Regions from separate parts of the Homo sapiens genome. Here region 2 is linked to region 1. Evidence: fine-mapped expression QTL. Tissue or cell type: whole blood. Region 1 holds a variant in brackets; the other region holds the start of a gene. All regions are shown on one strand. Distances are from middle to middle. Region 1 overlaps IMMP2L (inner mitochondrial membrane peptidase subunit 2). Region 2 holds the start of LRRN3 (leucine rich repeat neuronal 3).

Region 1 (5,390 bases):
AGTCTGTAGGAAAATCATGGCAACTTAAAGCAAACATTAAGCTGGGGTTTTGTTTCCTTTGTTAGATTGATGGGGGCACTTCGTTCTAAGGATGTCACTGATTCTGAAATTATGATGCCAGAGCTACATTTCTGCTATGCCCAGCCTGCATTCACTCATACCACCCTAGTCTTAGGAATTTTTATAGCTAAGCCCATGACTCCCCCATACTTAGGCAGGAAATATGAGATTTAGAAAATGGCTCTGGCTTCAGACTAGGATTTGTTGGCAGAACAGGGCCAGATTTGGTTCACTTGGAAGAAGGGTGGCATAATGCTCAGCATAGGTGATTCTACTTAGGAAATGTTGATTGATTAGGGTGAGTGATATGGTTTGGCTGTGTCTCCACACAAATCTCATGTTAAATTGTAGCACCCATAATTCCCACATGTCATGGGAGGGACCCAGTGGGAGGTAATTGAATCATGGGGGCGGGTCTTTCCCTTGCTGTCTCAGGAGATCGGATGCTTTGTTTGTTTGTTTGTTTGTTTGTTTTGATATGGAGTCTCACTCTGTCACCCAGGCTGGAGTGCAGTGGTGAGATCTTGGCTCACTGCAACCTCTGCCTTCTGGATTCAAGCAATTCTCCTGCCTCAGCCTCCTGAGTAGCTGGGATTACAGGTGCCTGCCACCACCCCCAGCTAATTTTTGTATTTTTAGTAGAGATGGTGTTTCACCATGTTGGCCCGGCTGGCCTCGAACTCCTGACCTCAGGTGATCCTCCCACCTTGGCCTCCAAAAGTGCTGGGATTACTGGCGTCAGCCACCGTGCCCAGATGATCTGATGGTTTTATAAAGAGGTGTTCCCCTGCACAAGCTCTCTTGCCTGCTGCCATGTAAGATGTGACTTTGCTACTCCTTCATCTTCTGCCATAATTGTGAGGCCTCCCCAGGCATGTAGAACTGTGAGTCCATTAAACTTCTTTCCTTTATAAATTACCCAGTCTCGGATATGCCTTTATTAGCAGCGTGAGAACAGACTAATACAGTGAGTAAGGAATCAAATTACAAAGAATGTTTTATACCTGCTTTCAATTTATACCTGCTTTCAGATAGGATTTTCTGAGGCTTATGAGAAAATAAATATTTGCTAAATAGAAGAGAAAAGGAGTGAGAAGAGGGAGAAAGGGCGGAAAGATGAGCTGGATAATGGAAACTGTTTTGTCTGCCATGAGGAAATAGCTAACCTATAACTCAAGTCTCTTTTTTAGGAGTTTCCTGGTATAAGGAATAGTGTATTGTTCACCCACTCTCTATATTGAGCAGTGTTATTCTGAATAGTGTGGTTACTATTTACTAATTTATTAATTATGTTGTAGCTTTCATCACTACACATTATTTTTTGGCAAATTAAAGTCAAATGAGGAAATACTTGATCTATTTTACTTTTACTAATTGTTATATTTTGTTAAAAATGAGCAGGAATTTAAGAAATACCTCATGACACACTTTTTTTAGATCCCTTTGAAAACAATTTGAATATATGAGTCACTGAAATATTTGAAACAAAAACTGACAGAAATGAAGGGAGAAACAGACAATTCAACAATAATAGTTGGAGACTTCAATAACTCACTTTATTTTTCTTTCTTTCTTTTTTCTTTTTCTTTTTCTTTTGAGACAGGGTCTTATTCTGTTGCCCAGGCTGGTGTGCATTAGTGCCATCTCAGCTCACTACAACCTTGCCCTTCTGGGCTCAAGTGATCCTCCCACCTCAGCCTCCTGAGTAGCTGGAACTACAGGCACATGCTACCACACCCTGCTAAATTTTGTGTTTTTGGTGGAGACAGTGTTTTACCATTTTGCCCAGGCTGGTCTTGAACTCCTATGCTCAAGCAATCCACCTGTCTCAGCATCCCAAAGTGCTGGGATTACAGGCGTGAGCCACCCTGCCCGGCCAACAACTCCAATTTAATGTGCAATATACTATAGTAGAACGTAAGTTCCCTAAATGTAGGAATTTGCATCTTGGTTTTTTCGTTTGCTTGTTTGTTTGAGATGGAATCCCTCTCTGTCACTCAGGCTGGAGTGCCATGGTGCGATCTCAGCTCACTGCAACCTTCGCCTCCTGGGTTCAAGCAATTCTTCTGTCTCAGCCTCCCGAGTAGCTGGGATTACAGGCATAAGCCACCATGCCTGGCTAATTTTTGTATTTGTAGTAGAGGCAAGGTTTCACTATGTTGTCCAGGCTGGTCTCGAACTCCTGACTTCAGATGATCCACCCGCCTCAGCCTCCCAAAGTGCTGGGATTACAGGTGTGAGCCACCGTGCTAGGCCTTTTTTTTTTTTTTTAATTGTTGTATCCCTAGTGTCTAGAAAGATACCTAGCACATAGCAGACATTCAATATGTGTCTGTTGAGTAAGTGAATATACTATACAAGTGACATCTAAGAGCTATGTAGAGAAAGTATCCTTCTGGTGATCCGGAAATGCTTCATGGAAGAGATGGCATTTTGGCTTGACATGGAGATGTTACTGTATTCCAGAAAAATGGAAAGGTATGAATATGGAAAGCAGAGGGAAGGAGGGTCATTGAGTTGCCTTTCAATTTATGCCCTTACTTCCAAGAATTTTTTTTCTGGGTATAATAAACAGTGTCACCAGGCCAGCCTCCAGAACCCCTGGTAGTGGGTCCTTTCCAAAGGCACTGGCATTAGCTGCTGATTTATACTGGCTCTTCCAACATGTTTTTAACTCTCTAGGCAGGAGTCTGACTTTCTTTTGTGTTCCTTTTCAACCTTGTCTTTTCTTTTCTAAAGTCATTTTCAAAGGAAGACAGAAGACCTTGTGTAAGAGGAGGCTAAATCCTTTTTTCTTTCAGTGTGACTTCTTGATTCTTTGAAAAGTAGGTG[G/A]AGGCCCCCTTACTGGCTGCCTCCCCCTCTGTCTGCTTCCTGGGCACCTCACTCCTGCCAGTGCTCCCAGGAGGGTGGGGTTGTGACTCTCAACCACTGCAGTTTCCCTGCTGCGGGGCTGCTCTGATTTCTGACTTCCCACTTTGCTCTCCCTGCCCCTTGCCCTGCTGCCTGAACTCTGTTCAAGCACAGCAAGGATACAGATCCTGGAGCTTTGCAAAAAGTAAGGAAGCCCTGGAACACTGGAGCAAAGGCAGCAAAGAGCTCACAGTCACCTTTAGTTCCCCATCCTCCTCCCTCGTCAGTTTTTTTCCCTCTCAATGCCAACAGATATTTCCTTCATGTAGTGTGATTTATTTACCCTCCATCCTCATTCAACACATTTATTGACTGTTTACACTATGCTAGGTGCTCAGAATATAAAGATAGTAATCTCTGCTTTCAAGGAGCAGAATTATCTGCACAGAATCTAGGTATGGAATAACTAGTCATTACAGTGTATCCTCTATTTAGAAGTTATCTACACCCCTAGCTAGCTTGAATATGTTCACTAACTCAGTCGACAATTTGTCTTAATTAACTGATTTAGGTTATTAGAAAGATTGAACCATTGCAAATGTAGGTGTAGGATTTTTTTTAAATCAATGCCATTGTGAAATGAGTATTCATAAAAAATACTGATGCTTGTAATAATAATAATAATAATAATAATAATAATAATAATAATAATAATAATAAAAAGACACACAATTTCCAGTGGTTAGAGGTATGGACTCTAGCCAAAGTATGTCATCCAAATTTTGGTTTATCCTTTTACTACCTATTTGGTATTGGGCAAATCATTTAACTCTGAGCCTCAGTTTCTTTATACGAGAAATGGGAACAATTCTGTTAGCTGTCTGTTGGCATTGTAGGGGTTGAGTATTAAATGAGTTTATGCAAAATACTTAGAACAGTGGCTGCTACACACAAAGCGCCACATGTGTTAGTTACTGTTGAAATGTTTCTACGTTGTAGATCTTAACCACAGAACAGCCGAGAGTTAAATTCTAGTTTGAACAAGGAAAATGTTTCTTTTCTTTAGAAACTGTCCTGTGTTTTAGGGCATTACTTTTCATCCACCATTTCATGCTATTTGTAAGTGAAGGATCCAGAGGTTCCTATGTATATCATCAAGCACAATTTGCAATCAGTATTAACACTTGCGCCACAGAGCCGCTAACACTTGTCCCATTAATACTGAGTTCTATTAACACTGTGTCCCACCATGCTGCCAGGTGATTTTAATGAACACCTGGGGTGGCTCTGCCTCACTGAAACTTGTCTTGCTACCTTTCAGAACAATATATGTATAGGAAATTATTACATTCCTCCTCCTTCTGAAAAATAACCTGGGTTCAAATAATAGTAGAATAATGATGCTGCCTTAGAACTGAAAAATAGAAAAGCAAACACAGTTTAAGAAGAGCTGTAACTTGCAAGTGATTGATAATGTATATTAGAGCCCAAATGCACTAAATATATCCATTGCTTTCATTTTCCAAGATGACTAACAGTTTGTCCAAAAAGTGTTGTTAAGTAGGTTTGTTGCTTTGGGAAAGTAAGCCTATGTATATAATTCAAAATGATTTATTTTTATAAAGTTAGGAGTCTTTCTTTCTGCTGAATGGGTATTTTCTCTGACATTGTCTCTGTAGTTTCTCTTCTTCTGATGGCTCCTACCACGGTCATCTGCCTTTTAGGAGACTTGTCTGGATCTTTGTGAGCCTGGCTTAATGAGGGCTGGGCCCTTAGCTGGGTTTCTTAGGGAGAGAGAATGACAGTGAACATAACACAAAGGGTCAAAACCAAGGAAACCTCTACCTGCTGGTAAAGAAGGGATTGTGTCCCTTAAGATAAAGGCAAGTAAAGGTAAACTGAAGGGGAGTAAAAAGAAAGGACAACGAAGAGGATGTCAGACAATTTCCATATCTGGGAGTGGGGTATCTAAGCCTCCTGTTTTTCAGTCACTGATCCTGTGGTAGTTGACTTTCAAGGCACAAGATTGTGGTACAGTATACATTACCCTCCTTCCAGCTAACCCACATAATAATCTATTATGTTATCCTAGACTTTTGACATTACTGGAAAGTAAGTAATGACCATGGAGTTAAAAATAACAAGGCTGGGCGCAGTGGCTCACATCTGTAATCCCAGTACTTTGGGAGGCCCAGGCAAGAGGATCACTTGAGCCTAGGAGTGTGAGAACAGCCTGGGCAACATGATGAGACCCCATTTCTAAAAAAACAATACGAGCCAGGCATGGTGGTATGTACCTGTGGTCCCAGCTACTCAGGCAGCTGAGGCAGGAGGATTGATTCAGCCCAGGAGGTTGAGGCTGCAGTGAGCCCTGGTCACAGCACTGCACTCCAGCAACAGAGCGAGACTCTTTCTCAATAAATAAATAAATAAATAAATAAAGGCACATATATTAAAAAATGCAATATGAAGTTCTGTTG
Region 2 (5,390 bases), 72 kb before region 1:
AGGAACTCATTTTTTAGTCTACTATTAGCTTTCTTTTAATGATCTCCTTCAGATTCACCAACAGATACCTCACCTCTGCCCATTTTCAGGGGCTGCTAATTAAGTAATAACATTTAACTTACATAAGTGTTTTTTTAAAACGAAACTCCGGTTATAGAGCTTTCTGATCAACTTAGATTGTAATAAATACCATAGTGCCATGTTACACAGGAATGTTACACCCCAAAAAAATTCAGATTCGGGGGGAGGAGTGAAACATCAAACCCATCACATGGCGAAAGCAAAAGATGTTACAAAAAAGGAAAGAACAAAGAAACAGTGAAATATAGTTAGTGCATCATAAGTTGATCACCTTTTTTGTAGGTCACTAAATTGCTGGCCTGGAAGGCTGGTAGCACCGTTTATTAAGCCATTAACAACAACAACCACCACCTCCAAATAAAAAATTCCACCTACTCATCAGCATTCTAACTCAGCATGTTGCCTGTGACAAGCGACACCCTGAAAAAAATGGTCCTTTGAATTGTCTTGCCAGGAAGGTGCTATTTCTGGTATAGTTACATGATTTGGGGAGACTATGGGTAAATCTTCCAGTCATACACAAATGTCCATCATCTGGCATTCGTAGGTGCTGATCAAATCACCAAACTCACTGGCACACACTGAGTGGCAACACCGGGGGCCTGGAGTGTTGGTATTTCTCAGACTGAAGTGGGCACATTACTGATCTCTGTAATCCACAAAATATGTATGTGAGCTTTACTAAGGTTAAAGAGTGAATCCACTGTTCTTAGGTGTCATCTATTGCAATTTTAAAATAAGGCGGGTTAGATTTAAGAATGTGTGTCTGGCATGCAAACTTTCCCTGGAAAAGGTCTAAGAAAAACTGAATTAAATACTGCAATGCTACATTATATAGGAGTTTGAAATCAGAGGGTTGAGTATCTACTTCAAGTCTTTTCCTCTTGGTTAGGAACTTAGGAGGTACCTCAAAATATCAGATCTGGTCTGTTTCAAAAGCAGCACTTTTAATAAATAGCAGAAAAGCAAATAAAACACTTTTTCCTTTTTGTAATAAATCATTTTGGTTTTTTTTATAGATTGCATGTGGCATTTGAGGCAGAGCGAGCAAAGCTGCCAATATTGCAAGCTGATGCTTCAGCACCTTTCATTTTTCTCTGAGCAGGAACCCTCTTCTTAAACTTGTTCATCTTACAGAGAGAAAATCGAAGCCACTGGCATATTGTCAGAGCTGCTTTATTGTCATCATTTACAAAGGTCACTGGAATTAATTGACTTCTTATATTACATGTTGTAAACTGACTCATTTTTTTGACACATTTATGGGAAAGTGGCAGGATCTAAGTGGCTGGTTATTGTCTTTTTGCTTTGGCTTATATTACAAACTAGGAAACCAATAATAGCTCTGAAATCACAGTTGTGGAAAAAAATAACCCACAGTTTCAAAGAAGCTGACTCTGTTAACTGTGTGGTTAGTTGAACTAAAAGAAGGCAGGAGAGAGCTCCAGAAGATGAAATACAAATGCTAGGTTTCTTTTACTGTCTTTCCAGGACCCAGTAAAGAGGGCAGTGAATGTTTCCATGAATATCCTCAATTGGTGTTGTCTGTTTGAAAGCATATTCTAAGTAGCTGGCTTCCCTTTACAAGATTGGAAGTAAAAATTAACCCACACTGAATTCCATGAATCATCAATACATGGATGCTCATAGAGTTTACTGAGAGTAATTCTGTCTCAAAGGCATTGCTTCTGAAACTAAAGATGAGAAATATATCAGTAATATTTATGGTACCAGAGCACACTATTTTCTAGGTAGATATTTTGAACCTTTACTTCTATTTTTGTTTTCACATTATCCCCTTTTCACTAAATTAGGACGGTTCTACTCATATTCATAGCCTGCTTTCACTGAAATTAGAGGCAGAGAAACAAGGACATATTGTTAAAAATGAATAAATTAGAGCCGAATTAAGCCATCCAGCTCAACAACAGCAAAGGGAATATAGCAGTTGGTTAGAACAAACAATTTTCTTAAATAGGAAATGTACTTTAAAGCCATCCTGCTGTGATCCTGTTAATTACCAAAGATTAGAACTCTTCTGGTTCATGGGATCCTTTCACCTAGTGTGTGGCAGTTCCAGCTGCATTAGCAATCAGACATTTGCACTGTCCCTTCAGACCAGCGAGGGGATGTTATTAAAGGGAAGTCATTTACCCCAGTCCGTAAGATGTAGCCTGGCAGAAATTCAATAACTGTTTGTGATATGCTCATTCTGCTACTCTGCTTAGTGGTTTAGCTCTTAACATACAACAGCATTTGCCTTAATTTGCATCCACTGGATGAGACAAAATAAAAATGCCCCATTTGGTGGGTTGATTTCAAAACAGAGAATAATGTGTGATCTGCTTTTCACTACAAATAATGTGAAGAAAAAGGAAAATTGCACCCCATCACCCGTGACTCTCCTCTCCTCTCTGTCTCCTCTCTGTCTTCTCTCTTCCCCATCTCCTTCTCTCTCCCTCTCCTCCTCTCTTCTCCCCCACTGTTCCCTTCTCTTCTGTCTCCCTCCTTTTTCTCCTCCCCCCAACACTGCTTTTTCTCTCCCACTCACATCCTCTAATGGGCATTCAAGCTAGTAAAATGCATGTTGGAGAATCTCACAAACACAGCTAGGCACACACAGAGCCAGCTGGGTTTTGCATGTGAATTTCTTCTCAAAAGTGCAATAAAAGAAAAATGCTCTTAGAATTCAGACAAGAAGAAGACATCAAAGGAGGATTTAGGTGTAAAAACATGATCATCGAAGAGACAAGAAATAGAACGTATTTTAAAATATATGTGTATTTTAAACTTACCTTGAAAAGCAGTTTCAGTGCTAGCCCACCTCCGATGTCCTTGCGTGCTGGATTCCTCAGTTCCTTGGTTGAGATAATCACATGGTTGTGTTCTTGCCCGGTATAAATAGGTGCATTTGTGTGTCTGTGTAACAAAGTGTACAAAATATATACTATAGATATGCACACATGCACGCAATCTTATCTCTCTATTTTAAAATATAAAGGAAGGCAGGAGGCTGCAGCCGGGATTCCTTCTTTTTCCTGGAACTCTTTTTCTCAGTCGGCAGGCTGAGGCTCTCAATCCAGTGAAGAGAGATCCTGTGAGCTGGCTTTATTTTTCCTTGTTTCCATGGTGGTTAGTGGTGCATCGTTCACCCGATCAGTTGTCACACTGACATGGTGCTGCCTGCTCAGCGGTCATTAATAACTGAACACCCTCCACTCCCCAGAGAGGAGCCAATCGCTTCAGACAGCCAAGATGTAGCACTCGCAGCTGCTCCAGTCTGGTTGGCTGAAACAAACTGTCTGTTCTATGACACTGCTGCTTAGGATACAAATAAATGAAACAGGCTTGCATGTTTTCCTAGGTATCATTTTCCTTCTTTTTTTTCCTTTCTGAGGGAATGTTGGGAATTTTTGACAAGTTTTCTCAATTTTAGGTTATCAGTCATTCAGAGAAATATGTTTTCAGTCTGCAAATAGAGAGGACACACTACTGATAAGGATTTCCTAAATATTAAAAACACCTGGTAGAGACTCAAACCTCCAACTCCGTCTCTGAAGTTCAGCAATGACTGCATTATTTAAGAAGAGAAGCTTGCAACTGTTTTGAGTGGCATTTGGTTCTCTATAGATCCTACTTAATTTAGCATATGTGCTTGGTGTTCAATAACACTTTTTTTTTTTTTTTTTTAGCAATGACATTTCTTGTCTGGATTGACCAGATTTTTAAAATAAAGCATATATTTGCCTCTCTGTAATTCACAACATTGGCATTTGAGGGGGTACTTTTTAAAAATATGTATTTCTAATTATACTCACTGACTTCTCTTTATATGATGTAATAAATCTAGGAGCTACATATGAATGGGTACATGTGTAGGTGTGTTTGTGTATCTGTGAGTGTGTGTGTGTATTTAGGATGTATTTTTTACCACTCTGGGGAAATATTTCGATTGTAATAAGTTAAATTATTTAAAAGACTATCTTTATTCTTAGGCCTATTAACTCTGAAAGGATATTTCCCAGGAAAATATACTATATAAGCCATACATGTAAAACATTTTTATTAATTACCAGAAATTTGGAAAACACAGAAACACATAGCAGTGCATATTTCTGAAAGAACATACATGAAAAATCAAAAAGCAGTTTTAAAAATGCATGTTTTACAACCTTAATTAGTATACTAGAGAAACATCTTGTTGAGGAGAATGGAACATGAGGATTAATATATCAACAGGTCAAAAGCAGGCTAGTCATGACTCCAACCCCAGTTTTGAGAGACTACCCTCTAGTGGAGTAAAGAGAAATGGCACTTATTAGATTTACTTAGGAAAAAAAAAACAAAACCTTCACATCTAATTGCTCCTTAAGTGCTTATTGACATGACATAGAACAATAGTTTGCAGTTATTATAATAATAATAATACCAGGAAAAATTTTAAACAGTAGGCTTGTCTTTAAATACTGAATATTTTCACTCTGTAGTTTTCTAGAAACAGTTCCCAAATGTTTTTTTCTATAAGAATTTATTCAAATGAATCAAAATAAGTTCAAGATAAAAGTAGCATCTCATTTAACCTAATACTTATTTCAGAATATTATTGTAAGGTTTTATTATTTACTGGATACTCTAGTATTTACTCAGAAAGCACTGAGTCAGTTCTGTATGTTAGGGATCATGGTTGAGTGTTGGGATGTTGTGTTAGAGTATATTTACATATAATTTAATGTACTTTTAATAATAGTAATAATCATCCTTCTTACCCCTTAATTTTAATCTAGCAAATCTTAGTTTCTTTAATATTCCAAATTATTTCAGTATCTGCAGGATTTATTTCCACATATGGAAGAATAATCTTAAAATTGTGATAATTATTTGTAAAAAGAGAATTTTTATTTATGCCATGGTATCTTAAGTGATTAATTTTCATTGATTGGTATTGACTGTATAATTGACAAGTCCAGTAATCAAACCAATTATAATGCACTCCCATAATGAAGGTAAGTTGTGATAGTCAGATACATGATTAAACTCCTCTCTTGGTTTTTAAATGAAACTGCAGTCATACCTAATATCTTAAATTTCAGTCTGTTTCAGAAATCAAGAAAAAATCTTTTCAGTTTTGATTCAGTTAGAATTGTTAAAGGTAGCCATTTATATGTTATCTTACATTATTTCATAGGAAGTTGTTTTAACTAAATGATCACTCTTTTGAAAGTGGGAGATCAGAGTGCTCTTCCTGCAATTGTCCTTTTAATGTAGGTACATGATAAATTTAAAATATTTTATACTCATTTTTATAAATT

What was found.
Region 2: LRRN3 starts here. The variant in region 1 is fine-mapped to the expression of LRRN3 in whole blood (TOPMed, PIP above 0.99).

What each region holds. Positions count from the first base shown.
Region 1 is chr7:111,017,028-111,022,417 of GRCh38, reverse strand. All of the region lies in intron 3 of IMMP2L (inner mitochondrial membrane peptidase subunit 2), which reads left to right. Among named protein-coding and RNA genes, the nearest start is that of LRRN3, 71 kb to the left of the region's middle. The variant G/A (reference allele first, on the strand shown) is at 2,893.
Region 2 is chr7:111,088,991-111,094,380 of GRCh38, reverse strand. LRRN3 (leucine rich repeat neuronal 3) reads right to left here and starts at 3,254. Exons shown (of 3, transcript NM_001099658.2): 1 at 2,877-3,254. The region is part of intron 3 of IMMP2L (inner mitochondrial membrane peptidase subunit 2); the gene reads left to right.